3 linked regions of the Homo sapiens genome follow. The protein of the gene in region 3 purifies or fractionates together with the protein of the main gene of each other region. This does not show direct contact. Each region holds a gene or a part of one and is shown on either strand. Other genes may lie near its edges. The genes, in order: PON2, GALNT2 and SLC44A2.

Region 1 (3,651 bases), on a different chromosome or scaffold from region 3:
ACTCAGCAGCAAAAGTAACCTAAGAGATCACTGGCCCAAACTCCCACCCTTGCCCAACATCTTTTACTAATGCCATCTGGCTTTTGCTGAGTGACCAGTTCTGAGAGGGCTCTTCTTGATTGCAGCTGGAAGGCAAGATGAAGCTGCTAAGTTACTTGGGACTCTTGAACTGTCTGCATGATCCAGCACAGATGTAGTCAATCTGCTATTTGATATGAGTTTGCCTCCTCCCACTTAGTGTTTGGGCAATTGAAAGAAGGAAGGGAAATTCCAGGACAGCCAACCAGTCTAGGGGAGGGGAGGTAGAACTGGGGAAATACAAAAGTATCAATGAAAAAAAGGAGAAAGAACACATAGGAAACAGATGCCTAAGGAATGAGAGGCAGATCAACCTGAGGAAGCTGATTTAAAAGAAGAAAAAAAGAAAGGGAGGCAAGCAAGGTATTTGTAGAGAAACTCTGAAGGTGGCACTGTCAACTGATGGTTTATTTTTACTAAAAGAGTGCTGAGAACTCTGTCTGGAGTGAATGTGGTTACAACTATGAGGTACTGAGTTTATTACTGTTGCCAAATTGAGAGCAACTTAGCAATGACTGTCAAAACTCTAAACACATATTCTAAGGGAACAACAATCCCATTGTTAAGGACATATTCTACAGACACACAAACTCAACAGCAATGATGTTCACTGATTTGTTCATAGTTGCAAAAAACTGTAACAACCCAAATGTACATTAAAAGGGGAATGGTTAAATAAATCATGGAATGTGAAAATATTAAAAAGAACAAAGTAACTATATATGCTGATGTGGAAAGCTGCTCACACTGTTTTAGGAATGAAGAAGGTTGTGAAATATTTACACTAAAATTCTATTTGTGAAAAAAAGAGTCAATATATTTGTTTGCAAATGCACTGAAACTATCAGGAAAGATAAAAAAGGGAGCTTTATCTTTGGGGTTATTTCTGTTGGGGGTGATGAAGAGTTTGATGAGAGATTTTTATTTTTATTTACTTTCCATTTTATATCTTTCTATATTGTTTGCACATACACTGTTTATATGAACTTTGCACAAAAAATACTGTGCAGTTGTGAAGAAAAGGTAACATTATGTACAAACATAAGTTTCCAAAACCTAGTATTAAGTACAAAAAGCTAGTTTTGAAATATTATGCATAATTTGACCTCACTTATGTTTTTAAAAATTATGTACAGGAGTATTCATAAAAAGAAAAAGATGGAAGGACACTCAAAACTTGTTTAACAATGTTACCTATTCAGAGAAGAGAACATTTCCATGTAACCCGAGTTTTAATTTCTAAAGAGTAAAACAAAATATTAAATTGTCTCTCCTACCTCTAGAGAAGGATGTTGTTGTAAAGGACTAGAAGTGACTCAATGACAGTCTAGTTATTTCCACACTGTGGCTCTCAGAGTAAGATTATAAATAAATGGTCCCAGGCTTTTTAAAGTCTAAAAACCATTAGTCTAATCACAAACTCATCATTATAGGTGACAAATACAAAAACCAACTTTGCCTAAGGTTACATTGTGGCAGAATAGAACTAGAAACTAGGTGTTTTGACTGCTAATTCTTTTTGTTTCTAATCATACCATGAACCATATCTAAGGAAAGCCAATATTGGCTGGGCTCAGTGCCTCATGCCTGCAATCCCAGCACTTTGGGAGACCAAGCTGGGAGGATTGCTTGAGGCCAGGAGTTCAAGACCAGCCTGGACAACATAACAAGACCCTGTCTCTACAAAAATAAAAAACTAGCCATGAGTGGGGGCATGTGCCTGTAGTCTCAGCTACCTGGGAGGACGAGGCGGGAGGATCGCTTGAGCCCAGGATATCAGGGCTGCAGTGAGCCAAGATTGCGCTACTGCATTCTGGCCTGGGTGACAAAGTGAGGCCACCTCTCAAAAAAAAAAAAAAAAAAAATTAAAATTTAAAAAAAAGGAAAGCCAATATTTATTGTTCATTGATAATCTAACTACTAGTCTATTATGTACTAGGGACATGTACTTAGTAGATGATAAAGGGTAAAAGACAGCAAGACACAGACTCTACCTTGGAGAAAAACTGCAAACACACCAGAGAGACCCTCAGTGCTGGAGAAGAATCTGGACAGATCCCTCCTTATCTATAGCAAAATTGGGGCTTGCTCTTAGGAACCCCTACTCAAAGACTCAGACTCCACAATACATCCTACATAAAGTCAAGGGAAGAGGGAGACTCCCCCTCTGCAGTCATAGCTTAGAAGATAAAATAAAAACAAGTTTTTACAATACATATTGTGAAGTGCCGGTACATCAGTCCGTTCTCAGGCTGCTAATAAAGACATACCTGAGACCGGGTAATTTATAAAGGAAAGAGGTTTAATTGACTCACTGTTCCGTGTGGTTGGGGAGGCTTCAGGAAACTTACAATCTTGGTGGAAGGGGAAGAAAACACACCCTTCTTCACATGGCGGCAGCAAGGAGAAGTGCCGAGCAAAAGGGGGAAAAGCCCTTATAAAACCATCAGATCTCATGAGAACTCACTCACTATCACGAGAACAGCAGCACAGGGTAACCACCTCATGATTCAATGACCTCTCACTGGGTCCCTCCCACAACACGTGGGGATTATGGGAACTACAATTCAAGATGAGATTCGGGTGGGGACACAACCAAACCATATTGGTCAGTTACGTGTTAGCCATAAGATCAGATCCTAGTTATAGAGTAGTGAGCAGGGTAAATGCTGTCACTGCCTACATAAAGCTTCCTTCACTAGCTGACCACAAGGCTCACAGAACACAGACTGCAGCGGCCATACCTGACAAACAATACAGACGCAACAAAAATAGTTCAGAGAAGTCACAAAACAAGCAAGAAATCAAATGCTAAACATAGAATTACACACAAAAAAGAATAATTTACAGTGAGGGTAGGAAAGAAGAATAAATACAGGGTTCATCAGATCAAGAGGTTGACCAAAGAGGTTTTTGTTGATCTAATGTGATTTATCCACTGAAAAGCAGTAATTTCATGCTAAAATGCCATTAATGAGTGTTTTAATGTTAATGGCCAAAAAATGCAATGTGCCCAACAAGCATTTTCATATACATACCAATTCCTTTAATCAGGTGGCAGTGTGGAAGGTCTACAGATTCTACTTCTCTGGAGGCTTTAAGTCGATTTCTGTTACAAAGAAAAAAAAACAAAAAACAAAAAACTATTTGTTTATGTATTCCCTGCTTTGTTTTAGAAAGGGTTTAAAGAGGCTTACAGCAATACATAAAACACAGTTTAAGTCTAAAGCAGATGAAAGAGAAAATAGAAAGACAAGGGTAGGAAAATAAAACTGCACCAGAAATGAAGTTAAAACAAAAATGCCTATTGCAAAGTTCTATATACTGATGTGGGTTATTAAAAAAAAAAAGCCAATAACTCAACAAATAAAACTTATAATGCAAGTTCCTATGCAAATGTAAACACAGCACCATGTCACATTTCTCAGTGTTGGTGTTGTGGGAAAAGAGTTCCAGATGTAGAACCAGTAGCCCTGTCTTCCTTCTGAAGAGTCAAACGTGAAAAATGACTGTAAGCCTCACACAGAGACTGCAAAGAAGCCAAGAGAAAATGGCATTGCTCAGAGCCTGACA
Region 2 (3,651 bases), on a different chromosome or scaffold from region 3:
CATGAAAATCAAGCCGTGGTACCTCCAACACTGCCCCAGGGGAAGGCAATGCTGGGGAGGGAACGAGGCTTTGTCAGTTCCCTGGGCCAGCAAACTTCAGACTGTATTTGCAGCAAGAATGGAGTGGGAACATGCTGGGAATATGAAAACTTTAAGGGAAAATGAGCCAGCGGAAGTTGCCAAGCTGGGCAAATAAGCTTCAATTTCAGATATATTTGGCACCTGTTGCATTTCATTTTTGGAATCCACAGACCCCTGAGGATAGAAGAGCCTAGACCCTGTACCCGGACTTGGTTGTGGGCATCTGCAGGGCCTCAGGTCTCGCTCTTGCTCCCAGGGTCACACACATAGTGCCTCTTGGAGGCCAGCAGGCTCCACCTGCGGAAGCTGTCCTGGTGCATCAGGAGGCCACTTCTTGGCAAACACATGGCTCATGGTGCTGCATTTCCAATTCCAAGGGTCTGACAGCAAAACCTAATGACTCTAGGGCATGCATCTTTCAATCCTCTTAAGCTCTCTGCCATCAGGCTTTTTGTCAACAGGGCTTTTGCAATGCCTAAGTTTGGATTTGTCTGCATGCTTTGAATTCATAGTCTGTCCGCCCTGACAGCCCCAGTGACTGAAGGATGGCGGGTGAGGGTTTCTGAGTGTCCTGGGCTGGCCAAGAATTTATGGCTCTGGACAAAGAGGCCTCCCAGCTCCCTCACTGCAGGATAGAGTGGCCTCAGGCAAAGAGAGAGGGAAATGGACAGGGGCCCAGGCAGTGGGGACAGAAATGCACAGAGAGGAGACCCCTGCGGGCCCCTGAGCTGGCTCTTATCATGGTGCCTCAAAGGCCACGAAGGAAAACCAGAAAAACAATGTCCTGGCTGTTTCACTAACAGAGAAGGTTAAGGATTAGCTGACATAACCTTTCCTTTGTTTTTTTGATGTTTACTATTATCTTATTATTTATTTTATTAATTTGGTCCAAAGAGAGAGGCTATAGCAGATTAAAGATCTGTTAAGAATGGCATCCTTGATTTTTTTTCTAAAGGAATTTCATAAAATGCTCTTAGGGTGAACGTGGCCCCGTTCCTCTGACCCAGAAGACCTGCACCCCCACACGGAACACCTGGCTGTTCTTGCCCCTGCTCTGACATACGCAGCTGCTTTGGGAGAAATAGAGCCTGGTAGATCTCAGCTCTTCGAATACTTGGGGAAATACAACATTCTGAAAGCCAGGCTTTCTAGCTATCTAAGGATCCCTCCTCTTTAATGTCCCCAAACATTTTACTTCTCACCATTTGCTGGGAATCGTTCCTGAATGTTATGTTTCCCACCCTAGGTACAGTCCTCCAAGCATGCCCGCCCTCCCGCTGATGTCTAATTCCATTATGCCCTGTGTGGCCAGCACAATTATCATCCCATTTCCCAGAGGGGGAAGCTGAGAAGCAGAGGCAAAATGGCCTGCCCATGATGACGGGGCCTGCAAGAGGCAGGTGGGGCCAAAGCCCACAATGTCTAGGACCGTGGCTGAGTCTCCCTAAAAAGTCCAAGTATTCTGTTTTCTGGGGTTAAGGCTTGCTTGCACACATATGTGTGTGTGTATGAATAAGCAGGGTCTCACTCTGTCTCCCAGGGTTGATCGTGGCTCACTGCAGCCTTGACCTCCCAGGCTCAAGTGATCCTCCCACCTTAGCCCCGAGTAGCTGGCATGCCATCACACGCAGCTAATTTTTTTTTTTTTTTTTAATAGAGACAAGAGTCTTGTTATGTTGCCCAGGCTGGTCTTGAACTCCTGGGCTCAAGCAATCCTCCCACCTTAGCCTCCCCAAAGTGCTGGGATTATAAGCGTGAGCCACTGCACCTGGTCAAGGCCCTATTTTATAGTTTTACTGTCTTCTTTTTTGATGTTAGACCATCAGTTAACCCTCTGCCCAGTGTCTATCTAGAATAGTTCATCTTCACACAGATGAAAGCTCTTTGAGGTCTTTGATAATTTTTAAGAGGGTAAACAGACAAAGTGCTCTTGGGGCTCCAGGGTGGGTGCGGTGAGGACATACAGGAAACTGGTGTGGTCATTCCAACGGAAGGGGACCAGGGTGATGTAGGCACAGGTGTTGGGCTGGGAAAGAGGGGTACAAGAAACCATGATACATGCAAGGGGCTGTATCAGCAGAACAGGGTCACACGTGGGCTTGGTGAGGGCGAGGGGGTTGAGGATGACACAGGTCTCCATCTGAGCAACCAGAAAGAGACCAGGCTGTCAGAGAAATAGCCAGGGTGAGCAGAGAAGGCAAAGACAGGCTCCAGCCCCTTGAATCCCACAAAGCCTCAGCTCCGTGAAGCTTCTCACCCCAGATTCCTGCAAGGAGGGCTTCATCATCTCTGGTCATAAAGGACGCCATATCTGTTCATGGAACCACATGGCTCGCAAAAGTGACAGAAGGTCAAGGAAGAGGAGAAAGGGAAACCCAGGAAGCTCTTTAAGGGAGCAAGCCTATTTTTTTTTCTCTTTATGAAGTCCTACTCGTTAAGCACACAGGTGGTTTTTACTCAGAACACACACTACGGCGTGAACACTGTTGTCACTGTCACTCCTGACAATGAGAGGGAGTGGTGATCAGATGCTGGTGTAGACGGGACGAGCTAGGCAGGGGCACCATGACAGACACCTACCGCCCTTCAAGTCAGCAGATGCCCCCACATACTGAAAGTTGTCCATATTAATGACATCGATGATGGGTGACACAACCCGAGTCCTGTCCTAAAATACAAAGAGAGGAGTAGTTATCAAAATCCCAGCAAAACAAAAAACCTGCCCAACCACAGAAGGCATTAGTATTAGGCAGGCACAGGGCAAACCCAACTGGCCCTTACTACCTACTACCCTAGGCCCTCAAGAACCCAGCCTCCCCACCCAGACCCAGAAGGTCTTGCTCTTGGCCATCCACAGATGTGCTGTGGCCTGCTGGGAGGCAGGGAGGGAGGTCAGGAGTGGGTGCGTAGCAGGAGTCACTCTAGGAGTGGAGACACCCATGGTTATGGGACAGGTAGCCATCAGTTCACCCAGCTAAAGGCAAAAACTGTGTTGCTGTGTCCCAAGGGTCCTTTTCTGTTTGCCCAAATACCATTAGTGATTTGTGAGCTGCAGTAAACTTCAGGAATGGAGTCACTGCTAAAATGCTCATACATCAAAATTAGGAATATATTTCTATGTGGGAGTGTGTGTGTGTGAGAGAGATGTGGTAAGTATCAATATTATCACAGCAGAAGGTTAACCAAATCAACCAGAGATTTCCAGATTCTACGTTTGCCTCATCTGTAATTCTATCTTTTTTGTTTTTTTGTTTTGTTTTTTTTTTGAGACGGAGTTTCACTCTTGTTGCCCAGGCTGGAGTGCAATGGCGTGATCTTGGCTCACCACAACCGCCGCCTCGCGGGTTCAAGTGATTCTACTGCCTCAGCCTCCCAAGCAGCTGGGATTACAGATATGCACCACCACGCCCAGCTAATTTTTGTATTTTTAGTAGAGATGGGATTTCTCCATGTTGGTCAGGCTATTCTTGAACTTCTGACCTCAGGTGATCTGCCTGCCTCGGCCTCCCAAAGTGCTGGGATTACAGGCGTGAGCCACTGCGTCCAGCCCCTGTGATTCTATTAAAAAAA
Region 3 (3,651 bases):
TCTCTTCCCCACTGTGCGTCCTCCCCCACACCTAGCACAGGACATGCAACAGGGGCCAATTGTTTGCTGAACCTCCAAGTGGACATGAGAGGTTTCAAATCATCTGGGGCCTGCTGGGGCAATACCTGCCCTCCCCACCCCGGGGACGCCCACCTCTGGGTTGCAGGTTTTCGCAGTAAATGGGCAGGGGCTGTCATCAAAGATCTTATAGACCGCTTCGTTGGAAGTGGACAGGAAGCTGGAGGTTCGTTAAGGAAGCAGAGGTCTAGGACTGAGGACCCCAGGGACTTTTGTGGGAAAGAATCCATTCTCCCACCAGTTTCCAGCCCTATCCCTAAGCTGCAGGTCACTTCTAGGCAAAGTTGGTCTTTAGCCATCCCTGGGGTCAGAGATCAGTGTCTGGGGGCAGATACACAGCAGTGCTGGCCCAGTAGGCGATGCAGAGGCACAGCAAGAAGAAGGTGACCAGTGGGTAGAGCAAGGAGCACATGACGTATCCCACAGCCCTAGGGAAGAGCAGAGACACAGGCGTCAGGGCAAAAGACACAACTCTAGGGACAGCTCCATCCTGGCCCCTGGCACCCTGGCCCCCCACCTGCTGGCTTCTTTGATGAGTGCAATCGCGATGAGAATTCTCTTCCGGAGAAAGATGAGCAGCAAGATGATAATGACTTCAAGGATACTCAGAATGATCACTGCAAAGGGCAAAGGCTGAGCCGGCTGGGCTCCCCACTCCCTCCAAGGCCTCATGTGGGGGCAGGAATGGGAGACTGTGACTCACTAAAGGCCAACCAGGTCTGCCGTAAGTGCAGGTACACCCGGAAATCCGTCTGAAAGCCGAGGTCCACCAAAGAGACATCAGAGCCGGCCTCACCACGCAGTCGGGAGTACTCCATGTAGCAGTGAAATATTCCTGCATGGGGGAACCACAAGCTCAGTCCAGCAGTGCCTCCTGCAACTTTGCAAAGCAGCTACAACTGCCCCCATTTAACAGAAGCAAACATCGAGGCTTCTGCCTCAGGGACTTTACACTTGCAGTTCCCACCGCCCGGTGCATTCTCTCCCCATGGCTGGATCCCACACATCCTTAGGTCTCTGCTCAAGTGTCACCTTCAGAAGAGAACTTCCAGAACCCTTTCCCCCTACTTGGAATCATAATCATATGCTGCCATGGTCTAAGTTCTCTCTCTTTTTTTTTTTTTTTGAGACGGAGTTTCACTCTTGTTGCCCAGGCTGGAGTTCAATGGCACAATCTCGGCTCACCGCAACCTCCACTTCACGGGTTCAAGCGATTCTCCTGCCTCAGCTTCCCGAGCAGCTGGGATTACAGGCATGCGCCACCATGCCCGGCTAATTTTGTATTTTTAATAGAGATGGGGTTGGCCGGGCGCGGTGGCTCACGCCTGTAATCCCAGCACTTTGGGAGGCCAAGACGGGTGGATCACGAGGTCAGGAGTTCGAGACCAGCCTGACCAACATGGTGAAACCCCGTGTCTACTAAAAATACAAAAAAAAAAAAAAAAAAAAAAAATTAGCTGGGCGTGGTGGTGGGCGCCAGTAATCTCAGCTACTCAGGAGACTGAGGTAGGAGAATTGCTTGAACCCGGGAGGCGGAGGTTGCAGTGAGCTGAGATCGCGCCACTGCACTCCAGCCTGGGCGACAGTGAGAGACTCTGTCTCAAAAAAAAAAAAAAATAGAGATGGGGTTTCTACATGTTGGTCAGGCTGGTCTCGAACTCCCAACCTCAGGTGATCCGCCCACCTCTGTCTCCCAAATTGCTGGGATTACAGGCGTGCGCCACCGCACCCAGCTAGAAACCACTATTAATATGAATATTTTACTATGAGTGTCCTCAAATTGGATTGCCAAGCATTTTTCTTCCAGGAAAGTTCAAGGAATAATCAAAATATGGGCCAGGCACAGTGGCTTGCGCCTGTAATCCCAACACTTAGGGAGGCCAAGGCGGGAGGACTGCTCAAGCTCAGGAGTTCAAGACTAGCCTGGGCCACATAGGGAGAACCTGTCTCTACAAAAATATTAAAAATTTAGCCAGGCATGATGGTGCTTGCCTGTGGTTTCAGCTACTTGGGAGGCCAAGACGGGAGGATCACTTGAGCCCAGGAGGTCAAGGCTGCAGTGAGCTGTGATTGTGCCACTGAACTCCAGCCTGGGTGACAGAGTGAGACTCTGTCTCAAAAAACAAATCAAGGCTGGGCGCGGTGGCTCACGTCTGTAATCCCAGCACTTTGGGAGGTCGAGGCAGGCAGATCACGAGGAAGTCGAGACCAGCCTGGCCAATATGGTAAAACCCCATCTCTACTAAAAATACAAAAAAAATTAGCCGGGCATGGTGGTGTGCGCCTGTAATCCCAGATACTCGGGAGGCGAGGTAGGAAAATTGCTTGAACCCGGGAGGCAGAGATTGCAGTGAGCCGAGACTGCACCACTGCACGCCAGCCTGGGTGACAAAGCAAGACTCCGTCTCAACAACAACAACAAAACAACAACTCAAAAACAACAAAAATCCAAAATATGAAGCACTGTTTTGTTGAGCACGATATTGTGCCTCTGGATTCCACAGGCCTGAACTAAACAGGCCCCTACCCATATTTTATCTGCTCATTACCTCCTTGTCATTTAGTTTGCCAACTAGAAATATGAATTACCCTCATTTTATAGAGAAATAAATTGAAGCAGTCCGGGCGCGGTGGCTCCTGCCTGTAATCCTAGCACTTTGGGAGGCTGAAGCGGGCAGATCTCCTGAGGCCAGGAGGTCGAGACCAGCCTGACCAACATGGAGAAACCCCATCTCTACTAAAAATACGAAATCAGCCGGGCATGGAGGTGCATGCCTGTAATCCCAGCTACTTGGGAGGCTGAGGCAGGAGAATAGCTTGGACCCAGGAGGCGGAGGTTGCAGTGAGCCAAGATCGCGCCATGGCACTCCAGCCTGGGTGACAAGAACAGAACTCCGTCTCAAAAAAAAAAAAGAAAGAAATTGAAGCACAGTTAGGTTGAGGCACTTGCCCAAAGAATTGGCAAAGCCAGGATTTGAACCTCTGCTATTCTGATACCAGAGTATGCATCCTTAACTACGGTGCTGAGACATTTTTTCTTTTTTTTTTTTTTTTGAGATGGAGTTTCGCTCTTGTTGCCCAGGCTGGAGTGCAATGGCGTGATTTCGGCTCACCACAACCTCCGCCTCCCAGGTTCAAGCGATTCTCCTGCCTCAGCCTCCTGAGTAGCTGGGATTACAGGCATGCACCTCCATGCCCGGCTGATTTTGTATTTTTAGTAGAGACGGGGTTTCTCCATGTTGGTCAGGCTGGTCTTGAACTCCTGACCTCGGGTGATCTGCCTGCCTCGGCCTCCCAAAGTGCTGGGATTACAGGCGTGAGCCACCACGCCCGGCCTGACTTTTTTTTGTTTTCCTGATGGGCCATTTCCACGGGAAAGGGCAGGGCAGTGTGCGGATTCAGGAAAGAGAAGCCACAGGGAGGGGGTGACGCACCGTAGCCCAGCACCAGAATCACCATGATGATCATCACCCAGACCATAATACCAGCCAGGAAGCGAAGCAGGATGATGAACAGGAGGCTCATCGCCATGGCAATGACCAGGCCTCTGGGGAAAAGAAAACGGTCATGAAC

Evidence for each region.
Region 1: the proteins of SLC44A2 (region 3) and PON2 purify together in Homo sapiens (affinity purification with mass spectrometry; one large-scale study listed by BioGRID and IntAct). This does not show direct contact.
Region 2: the proteins of SLC44A2 (region 3) and GALNT2 purify together in Homo sapiens (affinity purification with mass spectrometry; one large-scale study listed by BioGRID and IntAct). This does not show direct contact.

The regions. Positions count from the first base shown.
Region 1 is NC_000007.14:95,421,399-95,425,049, forward strand, and holds part of PON2 (serum paraoxonase/arylesterase 2), read right to left. Parts: intron 3,188-3,651; coding exon 3,117-3,187; intron 2,291-3,116; exon of another isoform or gene 1-2,290. UniProt on the Homo sapiens protein: Capable of hydrolyzing lactones and a number of aromatic carboxylic acid esters. Has antioxidant activity. Is not associated with high density lipoprotein.
Region 2 is NC_000001.11:230,245,161-230,248,811, reverse strand, and holds part of GALNT2 (polypeptide N-acetylgalactosaminyltransferase 2 precursor), read right to left. Parts: intron 2,750-3,651; coding exon 2,662-2,749; intron 1-2,661. UniProt on the Homo sapiens protein: Catalyzes the initial reaction in O-linked oligosaccharide biosynthesis, the transfer of an N-acetyl-D-galactosamine residue to a serine or threonine residue on the protein receptor.
Region 3 is NC_000019.10:10,632,018-10,635,668, reverse strand, and holds part of SLC44A2 (choline transporter-like protein 2), read right to left. Parts: intron 3,626-3,651; coding exon 3,513-3,625; intron 914-3,512; coding exon 782-913; intron 696-781; coding exon 596-695; intron 507-595; coding exon 414-506; intron 239-413; coding exon 154-238; intron 1-153.